Linked DNA regions of Homo sapiens: region 2 is linked to region 1. Evidence: fine-mapped expression QTL. A gene starts in region 1. The other region holds a variant in brackets. All regions are shown on one strand. Distances are from middle to middle. Region 1 holds the start of LRRN1 (leucine rich repeat neuronal 1). Region 2 has its middle 190 kb from the start of LRRN1.

Region 1 (4,390 bases):
TCCTAACTAGCTTAGAATATCCAGCTTGAATATTGCACGAATATATACAGCCAGGTAAAGAGCAAGCAGCACTTTGAGCTTTCAATACAATAGCACTTAAAGAATTTGGCTCCTGAATAAAGGTGTCAGCAAACCATGGAATTCCCAAACAGAAAAACTCACACTGCGTCTTTATTCTCTTTTCTTAAGGTCTATTGTTAACTGAAGACTCCTTGTCTTTTCAAATTCCTTCATGTGAATGGATGAGGCCAGACATCTGCCAGGATCCGCTCACATTTGCATGCAAATCAGAGACTTCGGGACACATATGGCCCTGGAGCCAATAACACTTTTACTCTAGATTTATACTGATCAAAGTGCCTTCCTGAACTTTCCACTCCTCCAGCCCTAGCTTTTAAAAATGAAATAATGAGCCTATTCCACTAACATGATTTAGATTGTCATGGCAAGACAAAACAAAACATGTTGTCTTTTAGAAAATCCTCCACGCAAAAGCCAGAGTCGGCAGCACCTGTTCCCTCACCCAATTAGAATTCCACTTTTCCTTTACGATTTAGGTTTGGGAATGAAAATACTTACGGCGGGATGGGATTTAGACTCTTAGCCTTTGCCTGTGAGCTTCAAGTGCTTCAGAACCATTTGTACCCCGGCCAGTCGTTCACTCACGGCCAGGCTCTGTTCTTGGCGCTGGGGCCGCGGCGGTGGACACGGCAAGCGAGGTCCCCTTCTCCTGGATCCGGCATCCGGGCCGAAGCGCCTGGTCCGCGTTTCCGCGCGGGCTCCCCTGGAACCGTCCCGGGACACGCGGCCCTCTCGCTGCTGGACTTTTCCCCGAGCCCCAGCTTGCCAGGCAGGGACTCCCTGGGCGGGCGGCGGGGAAGCGCCGAGTCGGCGGCCGCCCACACCCCTCTCCACGCAGCACAAAGGACACTCGCCGGCAAACTTTCCTCGCTTCTGACCCGGGCCGAGCCGGGAACTCAGCGCCAGCTCTGTTCCTGGCGGGGCTGAGGCTTCCCTCACATTCCAGGCCACCTGGCAAACGTCCTGAGGCTGCCACTCCTTCTGGGCTCAAGGCTCACGGGCTGAGGTCTGTCCCCGCGTGGAGCTCAAGGCTCACGGGCTGAGGTCTGTCCCCGCGTGGAGCTCAAGGCTCACGGGCTGAGGTCTGTCCCCGCGTGGAGCTCAAGGCTCACGGGCTGAGGTCTGTCCCCGCGTGGAGCTCAAGGCTCACGGGCTGAGGTCTGTCCCCGCGTGGAGCTCAAGGCTCACGGGCTGAGGTCTGTCCCCGCGTGGACCGCCGAGAGTTCGGTAGATCCTTCCCAAGGCTCTGACTTCAATACTTTCAGTGCCTTGTCAATTATACCCCTTGCCCCTTTCTCTTACCAAGGCCACCGCCAAGACACCCTTTTTCTTTCCTCTCCCCGTCGCCCGCCACCTTCCTTGCCCTCCTCTTGGCCCTCTTTCCAGCTCCCTGGGCCCCCTTTCCGCGCTGCTCTCCAGCCCCAGCTGCCTTCCCCGGTTCACATCCCGGCAGCCCTCCTCCCTCCCCGTCCCCGGGCACCTCCCTCCCCTGGTCGGCCCCTGAAATCCAGCAGGCTCGGCTCCGGTCACTGCCTTTTTTTGCCTGTTTCTATCTGGCCTGCCTTCCCAACTATCGCTCTCCCACACCTTTTTTTTTTTTTTTTTGGCAAGGGGGACGGGGGGAAACGGGGCACTATATTCTCGTTTCCCGACTTCGTCATTTTCCCCAGCTCCGTGAGCCGCGCCCCCTCGTCCCCCTCAGGCCCGCGATCTTACCCTGAGGTTCCCCAGACCCCGTAGGGTCTCCCACGCCACCAAGTTTGCCTCGACTTCCCCTCGCTGCCTCCCACACCTCCTGCCGCGGCGCGGCCGGCCAGGGACTTACCCCGAGGCCCAGCTGGTGGGGGTGTTGGGGTGCGCGCGGACCCGGCACCCACGGCGGCGGCGGCGGCAGCAGCAGCAGGAGGAGGAGAAAGACGAGGAGGAGGAGGAGGACTAGCTGAGCGGCGCCTCCTTCCCAGCCCGCAGCGCGCACTGGCTCCTTGGGGCACCCCCGGGAGAGCACCAAGACCGGAGACTAGGCGGCGACACAGGCAACCGCTGCTGCACGGGGCTGGGCTCAGTCGGCTCTCAGAGGCCAGGGCAGGGGGAGGCAGGACTGGGAAGGAGGGTCGGAGAAGTGGGGTGCAGAGGGCGGGGCAGCGAGCGGCCAGGTCCGGAGGAAGGCGCCCCAGGCGCCTAGGGATGCCGCCGCCCGGGCTGACGCCGTCGGCCCCTCTCCCCGCCAGGCGGGCGCTTGCAGCCGCGGGCGCACGGGCCTCGCCTCGTTCACCGGCTCGTTGCCGGCGCCCGCGGTGCGCCCCGCTTTGTGCTCCCCGCAGCCGGCGTGCACCTGGTGTAAGCAAAGGCGGTCAGCTGATGGGCCGCGCGCGGATTGGCTGCTCCGCCGTCTCCTCCCCTCCCGCCCGACCCTCTTCGCGGCCTCCCGCCCCCGCCCTCGGCGCGGCCCCGTGCTGGGCACCATCTGTGGACCGCCCAACAAAGGCGCAGCGCGGCGGGGCTCGGGTGGCCGGGCCGCGGTCGCCGCTTTTTGTCTAGGGGACGGCAGGCTGCGGCTGGGCAGGGAGGCGAAGCGCACTGCCGGTTTTTAGCAAAAGACAGACCAAAAGAAAATACACGTCCGTGCTAGGAGGCCAGCTAGGCACAATGGGGCCCCATCTCTTTGCGGCGTAGAACTCGGGCTCGGGGGCTGAGAACCAGACACAGTTCGGCCTGGGGCTGTGGGAGCCAAGTTTCGGGGTGAAATCCGACCCTGCGTCTTAAAATACAGGGCGCGTCCTCGGGCTGTGTGTGCGCGCCCGGGGGCGTCCTCCGCAGACCTGGCCCGGGCCGGTGTCCCTGCCGCGGGAAGGAGGATTCGGACGCTTAACTCAGCGGCGAAGTCGCTTCCCATTGGAGGAGGCTTTCCGAAAACGTTTCTGAAACTTTGAAATTACAGCTTTCTGATTTGTGAGGGGTGGAAGTTGTGTTTAAACAGGCGGCGAGGGACTGAGAAGGCAGTGTTAAGTGGAGGTGTCTCCGAGGAAGGGGAGGAGGGTGGGGACGGAATAGGTCTTCGGAAACTGCGCGTGAACCTGCGTCTCAGCTTCAAAGTCGCCAGCCGGAAGCAGGGCTTCAGAAAAGCCTTGGCACCCTTTATTGGGGGAATCGGCTTTAAGCGAAAGCATCATTAGCCCCTCAGTACTGAACAACTTCTGGCAGAGGAACGTGGTGACATTTCATTATGATGTCTAAACTTAGAACTTCTGGAGAATTTGGAAGGATACATTATTCGAGAATCATCCTTTGGATTCTTCAAAGCCACAGGATACATTCAATGTCAGTAACCATATTCTTGATCCCTGTAACATTTATTGGCGTTTCGCTTAGGTCTCTGATAAATGTTTGACGTCTTTGTGTGTCTTCACACTTTGTTATCCTGAAACTGTGTCATGTAGACATAAATGGTCACAGTTTGTCTTAAAAGTCTTTAGGAAAAGGTGATACTAGCACTTGGGCTAGAAGGTCGTGCAGAGCAGAGGAAGAAAAAGGCCCACTGCTGTCTACAAATGAATGGGAAGATTTAAGATCTTTCAAAGCAAGTTGAGTCTAGACCCTTGCCCAAGTTTTGTAACATGATTTTGTCTCTTTCCCCCCTTTTCATGCAGATTATCCATGGAGTTAGCATGCAGATAGCATGGAGTTTGTCTGATAGAAGTTGGGCTCTGGTGGAAGTACGGAAATTGAATGGTCAGGGAAAGATAGAATGCAGGTTTCTTAGGGAGTCTCTATTAGGTTTCCAGCCTGCCTTCCTGGGAGTGGAAGAGAGATGAGGTTGTGCCCTTCAAGGAGGAGCTTTACAGAGGTAGGTCTTGGAGGAGCAGTCGGAGCAATTAATGATGGTGAGAGTTGCTCTTGGGAGGCCAGATCTAGAACAGCCTCCAGGTTTTGGAAGAGACTTCATGAGAATGGTGTGAGTCAGGGACCAAGGTGTGAATTTTGAAACCAGGCCAACACTGCTTAGGTCCCAGCCCTGCAATTTATGAGCTGTGTCCCTAATGGCAAGTCACTTTATCTCTTTAAGGCTTAATTTCCTTGGCTCTAAAGTAGGGTTAATATCAGTACTTATCCCAAAGGATTGTGATGGTTAAGTGGGAGTAAACATGTAAAATGCTTAGGACAGTGCTTAGTATATAGTAAGCATTCAACGACAGATGTAAGCTCTAGGCATTATTAGGCAGGTATTGAAGACTAAAACAAGACATCAATTCAGACAGGTGGGATAATGATTCCGCATGTGACAGAATATCTCAAAGGCACTAGCTGCTCC
Region 2 (4,390 bases), 180 kb before region 1:
TTCCATGGTGTCTCTCTTCAGGGGTGTTACTATTCAGCATTGCTCTTGCATATCCTCCCATCAGAGTAGTTCAATAGACTCTTTGGTGTCTGCTGAAGTCTGGCTTTCTGGGCTCCCTCTCAAAAACGGCATATTTAGCCTTACTCTTGGCATCACCTCTGCAGGGCGTCGGACAGCACTGCACCCATGGCTTTGCATAAGTTCTCAACCCTTCAGAGGAATGAAGGAAGCTGCAATTGCCCCCAATTCATAAGCCAAGGGTCTAGGCACTGCCTTCTTGTTGAATGCTGACCAACATTCAAATTTAAGTATTCTTGCCTATCTGATAAGCAAAAATGTTCCTGATGTTTTAACTTGGAAGAAATTATTTCAATATCATGATTTCCATAATTTCTATCATTTGGTGTTCTTATAAAAGCTATCTCTCATCTTATTCTGGAGATCTTTCCTTCACATAGGAACCTCTACATGACACAGAAAAGAAAAGATAGATGGGCGGCGAGAGTCTAGATTTATATTCTAGCTGTTATGCATGGTGAGGCCAGCTTAAGAAACACGTGGCTTTTGAAAGACTTTCCATTGTATAAGGAGCAGACCAGACTTTTAACCACAATCCAGAGACTTTTAACTTCACAAAGATATGGCATTTTATTTTAATAAAGCTATCGAGAGAGCTCCCTTTTCGAGTGACTTTTCAAACGCATCTTTTGTCAGCAGAGGGCTTTTATTAGCTAATGTAACCTTTCTGTACTCCATGTTAGCAGAGAGAGAAAGGAAATGTCCTTGGGTTCCAAATGTGGAAAGTTGTGCAGAGACTCTCAAGGAGAAAGAAGTTTTCCGCTTTCCAAAGCTGCATTTGTCACTCGCTGTTGTATCGTAACTGAAAGTAATGAACTTTCCGATGCTACTGTCCAGAAGGTAAAGGTTTACAAGATTATGCCTCTAAACTGGCAATTGCATAAAAAGAGATCACCAAGGATTAAAATGTAGAGACCAAGTAAAAGTGTGAATTTAGCTGTGAGTGATAACTTGTAGAGACTCAGCTATAAAATACCTGAAATGGGGGGAGTTAGGCAAGACCTAGGAGTGAGGAGTGAGAGTAACAGTCTTGGCTGTGGAACAGGGTAGCTAGATGTTTAGGGCTTAATCCGAGCCACTACTGATAATTAAACAGCATCGATAAACTGAAGGAGCATGGGGAAGGAGTATGGATTGTGGGCTCCGGGTGCAATTCATGTGGGGTGTCGGTGTTGTGGTTCCATTAATCAGTCGTTTGATGGAAGAGCTCAGTCAGTAGTGGAAGAGGCTGGTGGCAGGGGCTTTGACAGGTCTTAGGACACTGGGAAAATAGATTGAGATTCTAGAGCAGGGCTAGTGCAGTGTGGGATCTGAACGTGTTGTCAGGACTGAGCCCAGCCCTTTGATTACAGTCAACATAGTAGGAATGGAGAAAGTCACACCTAAATGGGAACCTGAACCAGGGCTTCATTTCAAAGCCCATGGAACAGATAGGGAAGGGTGACTAATGACTTTTCTACTGTTGCAGACTGGCTTACAAACTGAGTAAGGCACAAAAGGAAGAACTGGTGTTGATAGCAAAGTGTCATCAGAGAAGGCAGGAAGGACACCCTGTCATACTGCCCGTTGGCTCCCCAGATATCACTATTTTTTTTTCCTCATCCTTGTTAGGAACTGGCAGGTAGTTGTGCTTGATGTCTATTAGACTTCATTTCAATTTTGAGGTCCATAATTCAATGGGGATAGATATAAAAAGGCTTCCTTTTTCATTAAAAGGGTAATTACCTCGTTATCAGAGTGCTGGAAAGATGAGAGCTCATGGATTTTTCATAAAATTATAAGTTTATAAGGAGTCGGGTGAAGTCATCTTATTCTGTCCTCAAGCCAGGGACAAATCTAATTCACCCTTGATGGATGGGACATTGTTTAACAAGGATCTCTAGAGAATAAGCGTTGATAACTTTCAGTATTTTGCAACCTTCAGTTGTGTTATTTCTTCTATCCTGTTGAATATATTGACACAGAATGGAAGTCCATAATTTTTTTGTTCTCTTTGGGTAGAAAGAATAGTGTTATAAATGTACTTCATTTTCATTATGTTAAAGAATACTTATCAAATGCCTTGTATGTGCTTGGTGCCAGATACAGCTGTGACACAGGGAAGAAGACAGACTTGATCCCTGCTGTCATTTAGCTGTGAGACTCATGAGGGATAATAACCAATAATCACATCAGTAAATGACTACAAATTGTAATAAGTGCTGTGAAGGAAACACTAAGGCATTGCTACAGAGGATAACAGGAGGAAGCTAAGACCTCACTGAGCCTGTGGCTCCGGCCGCTGAGTGATGGTCCCTTCTGTCTGCCAGGGTGGGATCGGGCACTCATCCAGTTGCAGGTGCGAGCACTATTGAGTAGCACAGGGTCTCAAGCTGTGGCCATGGACTTGGGCAACAGGAAATTAGAAATATCCTCTGGAAAGCTGGCCAGATTTGCAAATGGCTCTGCTGTAATACAGTCAGGTGACACTGCGGTAATGGC[C/G]ACAGCCGTCAGTAAAACAAAACCTTCCCCTTCCCAGTTTATGCCTTTGGTGGTTGACTACGGACAAAAGGCTGCTGCAGTAGGTAGAATTCCCACAAACCCTCTGAGAAGAGAGATTAGTACTTCTGATAAAGAAATTCTTACACGTTGAATAGTAGATTGTTCAGTTAGACCTATCTTTCCAGCTGGCTACTTCTGTGATATACAGGTTCTGTGTAATCTGTTAGCAGTAGATGGTATTAATGAACTTGATGTCCTAGCAATTAATGGCAACCTCTGTAGCCCTCTCATTATCAGATATTCTTTGGAATGGACCTGTTGGGACAGTATGAATAGGAATGACTGATGGAGAATGTGTTGTTAACCCAACAAGAAAAGAAATGTCTTCTAGTACTTTAAATGTAGTGGTTGCTGGAGCACCTAAAAGTCAGACTGTCATGTTGGAAGCCTCTGCAGAGAACATTTTACAGCAGGACTTTTGCCACGCTATCAAAGTGGGAGTGAAATATACCCAGCAAATAATTCAGGGCATCCAGCAGCTGGTAAAAGAAATTGGTGTTACCAAGAGGACACCTCAGAAGTTATTTACCCCTTCACAAGAGATTGTGAAACATGCTCATAAACTCACTATGGAGAGACTCTATGCAGTTTTTACAGATTATGAACATGATAAAATTTCCAGAGATGAAGCTGTTAACAAAATAAGATTAGATACAGAGGAACAACTAAAAGAAATATTTCCAGAGGTCGATCTATATGAGATAATAGAATCCTTCAATACTGTTGCAAAGAAAGTTTTTAGAAGTATTATTTTGAATGAATACAAAAGATGCGATGGTCGGGATTTGACTTTACTTCGGAATATAAGTTGTGAGGTAGATATGTTTAAAACCCTTCATGGATCAGAATTATTTCAAAGAGGACAAACACAGCTGCTTTGTGCTGTTACATTTGATTCATTAGAATCCAGTATTAAGTTGGATCGAGTTATAACAACTATAAATGGGATAAAAGATAAAAATTTCATGCTGCACTATGAGTTTCCTCCTTATGCAACTAATGAAATTGTCAAAGTCACCGGTATAAATAGAAGAGAACTTGGGCCTGATGCTCTTGCTGAGAAAGCTTTGTATCCTGTTATTCCCAAAGATTTTCCTTTTGCCATAAGAGTTACATCTGAAGTCCTAGAGTCAAATGGGTCATCTTCTATGGCATCTGCATGTGGTGGAAGTTTAGCATTAATGGATTCAGGGCTTCCAATTTAATCTGCTGTCACAGGTGTAGCAATGGGATTGGCCACCAAAACCGATCTTGAGAAGGGTGAAATAGAAGATTATCATTTGCTAACAGATATTCTGGGAATTGAAGCTTACAATGGTGACATGGACTTCAAAATAGCTGGCACTAATAAAGGAATAACTGCATTACAGGCAGATATTAAATTACCTGGAATAACAATGAAAATTGTAATGGAGGCTATTCAACAAGCTTCAGTGGCAAAAAGGAGATTTTACAGATCATGAACAAAGCTATTTCAAAACCTCAAGCATCTAGAAAAGAAAATGGACCTGTTGTAGAAACTGTTCAGGTTCCATTATCAAAATGAGAAAAATTTGTTGGACCAGGTGGATATAACTTAAAAAACTTCAGGCTGAAACAGTTGTAACTATTAGTCAGGTGGATGAAGAAACGTTTTCTATATTTGCACCAACACCCGGTGCTATGCATGAGGCAAGAGACTTCATTGCTGAAATCCGCAAGGATGATCAGGAGCAGCAATTAGAATTTGGAGCAGTGTGTACTGCCACAATAACTGAAAGCAGAGATACTG

Evidence for each region. PIP is the estimated chance that this variant, and not a neighbour inherited with it, causes the effect.
Region 2: its variant is fine-mapped to the expression of LRRN1 in whole blood (INTERVAL, PIP 0.96).

What each region holds. Positions count from the first base shown.
Region 1 is chr3:3,797,436-3,801,825 of GRCh38, reverse strand. It overlaps LRRN1 (leucine rich repeat neuronal 1), which reads right to left and starts at 2,395. Exons shown (of 2, transcript NM_020873.7): 1 at 1,907-2,395. LOC100130207 (a long non-coding RNA gene) reads left to right here and starts at 951. Exons shown (of 6, transcript NR_149025.1): 1 at 951-1,125. RefSeq lists silencers at 2,075-2,184, 2,325-2,414, 2,425-2,494.
Region 2 is chr3:3,982,250-3,986,639 of GRCh38, reverse strand. It overlaps the pseudogene PNPT1P1. Among named protein-coding and RNA genes, the nearest start is that of LRRN1, 190 kb to the right of the region's middle. The variant C/G (reference allele first, on the strand shown) is at 2,560.